Homo sapiens: one gene and its partner. The protein of the gene in region 1 interacts with the protein of each later gene in a biochemical or structural test. Each region holds a gene or a part of one and is shown in the gene's direction. Other genes may lie near its edges. The genes, in order: RNF139 and UBE2G2.

Region 1 (3,813 bases):
GACAATATATGGAATATTGAAGAACATAAAGCTGTGTTTTAAGGGATGTTAAATACTAAACGAAACTCAACCCAGAGCAGCATAATGCTGAGTTAGCAAATTTAAATCCAAGGCAGAAAATGCAAGCCTAGGAGTTTGTTTTAATAGTATTACTAATATGGTGATAATTCATTGAGGTGGGAAAAGGCTTTAAACATAACAGAAGACCCAGAAGTTCCAAGGAAAAATCTGAAAAATTTCAGTACATAAAAATAAAAAGCTTTTTTATGGCAAAGCTTAAAAAAGAATCCTTAAATGACAAACTGAGATAAAATACTTCTATCATAAGTGATTCACGTTCCAGTAAGAGTTTTACCCTGCCAGGGAAGCTGAGGCAGGAGAATCGCTTGAACCAGGGAGTTGCAGGTTGCAGTGAGCCGAGATCGCTCCACTGCACTCCAGCCTGGGGATAGAGTGAGACTCTGTCTAAAAAAAAAAACAAAACAAAACAAGAAAAAACTTATACTCCCTTAGGAAAATGCCTAAGACAAGCAATTCACAATAAACAAAATGCAGATGTTCAATAAGCAAGAGAAAAAGTATTTAGCCCTTCCTGCAGTAGCTTGATTTTATGGGGGAAAAAAAAAAGTACCTAGCCTTGTTTATAATTAAATACTGTCAAGACCGCTTACGGTGGCTCACGCCTATAATCCCAGCACTTTGGGAGGCTGAGGCAGGCAGATTGCTTGAGGCCAGGAGTTTGACACCAGCTTGGCCAAATGGCACAACCCGTGTCTACCAAAAAATTAGCCGGGTGCAGTGACTCCTGCCCATAGTCCCAGCTACTGTGGAGGCTGAGGCACGAGAATCTCTCGAATCGGGGAGGTGGAGGTTGCAGTGAGCCAAGATCGCGCCACTGCACTCCAGCCTGGGCGATAGAGCGAGACTGTCTCAAAAAAAAAAAAAAAGTCAAAAAAAATTTATCAGATTGGTGAAGAGTTCAAAGTTTTATTAGTTTTGCAAAGGTATTTACCTTTTTGAAATAGGTAAATTTATACAATTTTGGAAGACTTTTTTTTTTTTTTGAGACGGAGTTTGCTCTTGTTGCCCAGGCCGGAGTGCAATGGCGTGATCTCGGCTCACCACAACTTCCACCTCCCAGGTTCGGGCGATTCTCCGGCCTCAGCCTCCCGAGTAGCTAGGATGATTACAGGCAAGCGCCACCACCCCCGGCAAATTTTTTTCTATTTTTAGTAGAGACAGGTTTTCTCCATGTTGGTCAGGCTGTTCTCCAACTCCCGACCTCAGGTGATCTGCCCACATCGTCCTCCCAGAGTGCTGGGATTACAGGCGTGAGCCACCGTGCCTGGCCCGGAAGACTCTTAATTTCAGTGTAAAACCATTTGGCAGTATCAACTGTCATTTACAACTGACTTCTCAGTGTTTTGTTTTGTTTTTGAGACAGTCTCACTCTGTCACCAAGGCTGGAGTGCAGTGGCGTGATCTCAGCACACTGCAACCTCCACCTCCCAGGTTCAAGCGATTCTCCTGCCTCAGCCTCCCAAGTAGCTGGGATGCCTGGCTCGTACAACTTTTGACTCACAATTTCAATTCTAGGGAATTGGCCTAGAGAGATAGTTTGCTTAAGGACTATGGGCAAGCATTACTGGAAATAACAAAGCAACAAACTTAATCTAAATATGTATTGATACAAATCTGTTCATTGTATTAGGTCTAGCCATGCAATAAAGTTCTTGAAAGAAATGAGATAGCTATTTTTGGTGCCGAAAAAGACTTCAGAAAACCTCTGAAGTGAAAAAACAAAGCCGAAGTAATTATCACTGGCAGAGGAATAGACAGAGATTTCTCAACAGTGGCAGTATTGACATTTTGGACAGGATAATTCTTTGTTTGCGGATGGGAGCTCTCCTGTGCACTGTAAGATTTTTAGCAGCATCACTATCCCCTGCCCATTAGATGCCAGTAGCACCTTGCACCCCCACACCCCAGTGTGACAGCCAAAACTGTCCCTGGATATTGCCAAATCATGGTTGAGAACCATTGGGATAGACAAATAGATTAGTACTTAGCCTTATTTATAATTACATAGCCCAGAAACAGACACCAATGTATATATAGAAATAATGTGTTTCAGAGATAGAATTGAAGTACATTGAGGTAAATATGGACTGTTGAATTAATGATCATTTTGTTACACCTTTGGAAATAAATTATACTAGATGTCTACCTTATGTCAATATATAGACAGTCACTTCTAGGTTGAGCAGTGTAGTGAGACCCTGTCTCTGCAAAAATAAATATTTAAAATAATAGCCATACTTGGTGGTGGGTGCCTGTAGTCCTATCTTACTCAGGAGGCTGGGGTGAGAAGATCGCTTGGGCCTAGGAGTTCAAGGCTGCAAGTGAGCTATGATTGCATAACTGCACTCCAGCCTGGCTGGGTGACAGAGCAAGACCCTGTCTCTTAAAAAAAAAAAATAGTCATTTCTAAGTGTATTCTTACCTAGATGTATATGTAAATATGAAATGCAGAACTTTAAATTTTTAGAAAAAAATATGGAATATTTTATTTTTCCAATCTTAGATTAAGGAAGAAATCCTTAAAAATATATAAAAGCAAATACATAATGAAGATTGATAAACCGAATGATATTGAGGTTAAAAACCTATGTTAATCAAAAGATCGCACCACTGCACTCCAGCCTGGGCAACAGAGCGAGACTCCATCACTAAAAAAAAAAAAAAAAAAAAAAGGAAGTCAAATCTTGGGTAAGGGGGAACTACTGTACTTACATTTACCCATTTATTATAAAGGCAATTACAAAGGACACAGATGAATTAACCCGATGGAAGGAGATGTACAAGGTGAGACAAAGAAGGAGAGAAGAGGAGAAGGGGCGTGGAGCTTCAGTGTTCAGCTATCTGAGAGCTCACAGAACTCAGTCCTTTTGGGCTTCTATGGAAGTTCATTAAATAGGCAAGATTGATTAGATCACTAGTCATTGGTTTATGGACTCAAGTTTCAGCTTCTTTCTTCCCAGAAGTGGCGGCTGGGGGTAGGAATCAAAGTTATAACCCTTAATCACTGGGCTGATTCCCCTGGCTACCTAGCCCCCATCCTGAAGCTATCTAGGGGCCCCCAGGCACCAGTCATCTGATTATTGTACAAAACAGTCATCACTCCAGAGATTCCAAGGATTTTAGAAGCTATGTCAGAAAATGGGACAAAGACCAAATATTAATATTTTTTTTATGATATCACAGATGGGAAAGACAAACTAGAAAAACTTGCTTTAACTCTTCATTTAACACCTCTCTGTAGGGTTTGGCTTTTTAAAATCCATGTTCATATATTTTTGATAAAAGCATACTTATTATAAGTTTAGTTTAAAAGCAAAAGTTTAATTTTGTGTTAATACTTAGAATACCAGGTTTTTTTTCAACCTAAAATGAGAATCCAATAGAAATGTTTTCTTTATAATTTATCAAGTATACCAACAGATTAACAACATTTCAAGACACTTTGTTGTAAACTTCATTGCGGAAGGCTCCCTTGGGAGTAAGGTAGTAGTAACATTTATTTCTGTGCTTTTCCATATTTATTCTGTCAGGTATTGAAATGTTTTTCCACAGGTTGCTTTTTGTTTTAGAGGTATTTCGGGTACTTGGAGAATTGTAAATATTATGTTTTGTACCCTGATTTTTAGTCATAAGTTTCCAAAAGAGGGTAAGGGTATGAATAGACTTTACACATAAAAGAGTGAAACACTTTGTTATGTAACATGTATAGTAAGTTTTTATTTTTTCTTTTGT
Region 2 (4,355 bases), on another chromosome or scaffold:
GTATGCGGTGAAGGCCGGGTGGTGACGGCCTAGGCCACACTGAAGAGGCAACATTTGAGCAAAGACTGAAAGAGCAGGTGGGAAGAGTCGGGGACAAGAGCCGCCAGAAAGTGTTTCCGGGGAGGGAAGAGTCAGGGACTCTGAACCAGGCCAGGGCAGCTGGAGTGGAGTGAGAGGGAGGGAGGGTCTGGGAGTATGGCGGGGTGACCGGAGGCAGAGCAAAGCACTGCAGGACTTCAGCTTTACTGAGTGAAATGGGCGGAGCAGAGTGTGAATGTGATCAGACTTCTTTTCAAGGGATCATCTGCAATGCTGGAAAGGAAAAGACAAATGATAGATTATTGCAACAAACAGCCAGGCAAGAGATGCAAACTTTTTTTGCAAAGGTGTGTGTGTATATACATCCTTGCACCGGACAGCCACGAAGCACCTACTGTGCTGTGAAGTCAGTAAGGATGTGGGTTAAAATCGCTCACCTCACAGCGGGTCAATCGGGAAAGCACACCCACTCACTACAGCCATTATGGGAAAAAGGGCTCGCCCCTTACAGGATCCTCAACTGTGGAGAGGCCGGGAGCCCACGCGGGGCGCTGGGGAGTCTCTCAGCACCCCAGGGGTTCGGGCAGGGACCTGAGCCGCGCCCTCTCTCCCGGGGGTGCCCTGGGGTCGAGGCTGCTCGGCAGAGCCGGCGGTCAGTTCGAGCCGCGGGCCCGAACAGGGCTCTCCCCGCGGCTCTCTCCCTCGGAGTAGAAGGTGCTGGACCCGAACTCCAGCGGAGCCGCACAACACGTGGAGGAAAAGCGCCAGGACAGCTAACCTTCCCACCTTTTCAAACCTGAAACCCGGCCGGCTGGGGACGGTTGGAATGTTCAGTGCGTACCCGCACCTCAGGCCCCTTGTCTCCAGCCCCAGACCGCCCCGCGACCATCCTCCCCACCCCCCGACCTCTTATCTCGTCCCCGCCCTGTCTCCCCAACCTCCATCCTCCCCTCCACAACCCCCGTCCTCCCGCCCTTCGGCCACGCGCGGCTGGCACAGAACAGGCAGTTAGCGCACACACACTGGAACAGGCGCCACCGTTCAGGAAGTCTCTACAAGACCAGGACCCTGAGGCCTCTGGAAGTGCCGGGACCGAACCAACCCCGCAGAGCGACTAAGGCGAGGGCAGGAGCCAAGAGAATCGTAGCCGCGGTCGCGGGTTGAGCTCCCACCACCCGGACAGCGCGCCTCGGCGATCGCGCACGCGCCACGCCCCGGAAGAGTTCCTGGGCCCGCGACGGTGGCCCGGAAGCAGTCCCCGGTGTCGGGGCAGGAGGCACGCGCGCGGCTGAGGCGAGGTCGCTCGGCGCAGCTGTTGCGGGGCCATGGCGGGGACCGCGCTCAAGAGGCTGATGGCCGAGTACAAACGTGAGTCTGGGGACCCGGGCCGTCAGCAGCGTCCCGCGTTCCTGCTCCCGGGCCCGCGTCGTCCGGCGGGGCTGGGGCAGGGAGCCTGGCGGGGGAGCCGGGCCCGGGGCCTCCACCGTGAGCCCCCCTGTGGGTCCCGCGGAGTGCCGCGCCCTGCGCCCGCTGCCCACTCTCACGCGTGAAGTCGTGAAGAGAAGCCTTCCCAGCATCAGTAAAGGCAGCGCCGGCGCCGTGTTAGTTGAGAGCACACACAGTTGAGTCTTTGCGGGCTTGTTTTTTTCTCTTCTATTTTTTCTTTTCTTGGCAGCCTTGAGAACGTGCAGTGAGAGCTTGAGGAAGAAGGCCTGACTTGCTGCTGCGGAATTAGGAGGGAAAAGTGTATGCGTTAAAAGGGGAAAGGCTCGTTGGTGGAGCTTTGAAAGGTCAGATTTTGGCTTTCCCTCTAATGAAGGAAAAGGGTTTTTGAACAGTGCCACCTGTCACTCCTCCTAGGTAGTGTTGAGGAAACCTCTTGAGTGCTTTCCTACCCGGTAAATTAGATATTTCTAATGTCTGAGGAGAGCGAAGGGAGAAATGAGAACCTAGGAACACTCGGCATTCCATCGTTTTACACCGAATGCCCGCTTGGAAGAACTGCTGCGAGAAGTCTTGGAATACCATTGTGTTGAAAGCGCCAGGAGCCTGAGTCGCCGATGGAGACGAGATAGTAGCCGGCTAAGAGCAGGGCCTGAGTTCAGACCCGGCCTCTCTGCTTGTTAGCTCTTTGACCTTGTTCCTCTCTCTGTCTCTGCAGTTTCCTTGTCTTAAAAGGTTAAACTTGATACTGCAGGTGAAGTGCTTAGCAAAATACCTGATGTGTAACCCTTAATAAAGTTAGCTGCTGCTTTTGTAATTAGATTGAGGATAATTTTGGAAGAAAGTTAAGCTAAAAGAATGAATGTGAGAAAAAAAATAAGTGGTGAATATACATGTAGCTTGATTTCGTAAAACTATTGGTGACACCGCCCAGTAAGAGTTGATGTTTGGCTTAAGCAGACCAAAACGTTGCAAATACAGGCTCACTCACGTATGGTCATTCTTCCCTTGGTATCTGGAGGGGATTGGTTCCAGGCCCCGCTGCAGATACCAGAATCCTCGGATGCTCAAGTCCCTACTATAAGGTGGCGTGGTATTTGCATTTAATGTATGCATAGCCTCTCATAACTTTTAAATCATCTCAAGGTTACTTATAGTACCTAATGCAATGTAAGTGCTGCACAAATAGTTACACTGATTTTTTTTACTTGTATTTTTAAATCGTCATTTTTTATTGTTATTTTTTTCAAATATTTTGTATTCCTGGTTGGTCGAATCCATGGATATGCAGCCGCAGATACACAGGGCCTCCTGTAAACGTTCAAATAACGCTCGCCACCTAGTGTCTGCTAAAGCAGAACATAAAGGCACACCTCAGTTTCCCGCGCGCTTTGCTTTATTGAGCTTCACTTCGCAGATCTTGCATTTTTTACAAGTTTACAAGTTTTTTACAAGCAACCCTGCATGGAAGCAAGTCTGTTGGCACCATTTTTGCTCGCTTCGTGTCTCTCTCTTACATTTTAATCTATTACTGTGATCTATGATCAGTAATCTTTGATGTTACTATTGTAATTATTTTGGGGCATCACAAACTATGCCCATAAAAGATGGTAGTCCTAATAAATGTTGTGTGTGCTTCACTGACTGGCTGTTTCCCCATCTCTCTCCCGGCCTCTCTCTTCCCTGAGACAAAACAACATTGAAATTAGGCCAATAGTAACTGTACAGTGGGCTCAAGTGTTGAAGTGAAGAGTTGCACTCTACCCACTTCAAATCAAAAGCTAGAAATGATTAAGTTTAGTGAGGAAGGAATGTTGAAAGTCAAGATAGGCTGAAAGCTGGGTCTCTTGTTAGCCAAGTTGTGAATGCAAAGGAAAAGTTCTTAAAGGAAATTAGAAGTGCTGCTCTGTTGAACACAATGAATGATAAAGTGAAAAAGCCTTACTGCTGATATGGAGAAAGTTTTAGTGGTTTGGATAGAAGATCAAACCAGCCATAACATTCCTTTAAGCCAAAGCCTAATCCAGAGCAAGGTCCTAACTCTTCAGTTTTATGAAGGCTGAGAGCAGTGAGGAAGCTGCAGAAGAAAAATTGGGAGCTAACAGAGGTTGGTTCATGAGATTGAAGTAAATAACCTGTCTCCATAACAGAAAAGCACAAGGTGAAGCAGCAAGGTCTCCAGAAGATCTAGCTAAGATCAAGATGAAAGTGGCTCCTAAATTAAGCAATAGATTTACAAGGTACGTAAAATAGCCTTATACGGTATTGGGAGGAGATGATGCCATATACAACGTAAACAGCTAGAGAGAAGTCAATGACTGGCTTCAAAGGACAGGGCGACTCTTGTTAGGGGCTAATGTCGGTCACTTTAAGTTGACTGAGTTGAAGCCAGTTCTCATTTATCATTCAGAAAATCTTAGGGCCCTTAAAAATTATGCTAAATCTACTCTGAGCTCTAGAGATGGAAAAACAACCTGGATGACAGCACATCTGTGTACAGCATGGTTTACTGAATATAAGCCCACTGTTGAGACCTACTGCTCAGAAAAAAAGATTATCTTCAAAATACTATTCCTGACAGTGCACCTGGTCACTCAAGAGCTCTGATGGAGAGGTATAAGGAGATAAATGTTTTTGTGCCTGCTAACACAACACCAATTCTGCAGCCCATGGATCCGGGAGCACTTTTGACTTATTTAAGAAATACATTTCATAAGGCCATAGCTGCCATGAAAAGTGATTTCTTTGATGGATCTGGGCAAAGAAAATCAAAAGTCTTCTGGAAAGGATTTATCATTCTAGATGGCATTAAGAACATCTGTGATTCATGGGAGGTCACCATATCAACAACAGGCGTTTGAAAAAGTTGATTT

What was found.
Region 2: the proteins of RNF139 (region 1) and UBE2G2 form a complex in vitro, tested with the Homo sapiens proteins (one study listed by BioGRID).

Annotation. Positions count from the first base shown.
Region 1 is NC_000008.11:124,477,674-124,481,486, forward strand, and holds part of RNF139 (E3 ubiquitin-protein ligase RNF139), read left to right. Parts: intron 1-3,813. UniProt on the Homo sapiens protein: E3-ubiquitin ligase; acts as a negative regulator of cell proliferation through mechanisms involving G2/M arrest and cell death.
Region 2 is NC_000021.9:44,798,758-44,803,112, reverse strand, and holds the start of UBE2G2 (ubiquitin-conjugating enzyme E2 G2), read left to right. Parts: upstream 1-1,292; 5' UTR 1,293-1,364; coding exon 1,365-1,407; intron 1,408-1,714; exon of another isoform or gene 1,715-1,829; intron 1,830-4,355. UniProt on the Homo sapiens protein: Accepts ubiquitin from the E1 complex and catalyzes its covalent attachment to other proteins. In vitro catalyzes 'Lys-48'-linked polyubiquitination. Involved in endoplasmic reticulum-associated degradation (ERAD).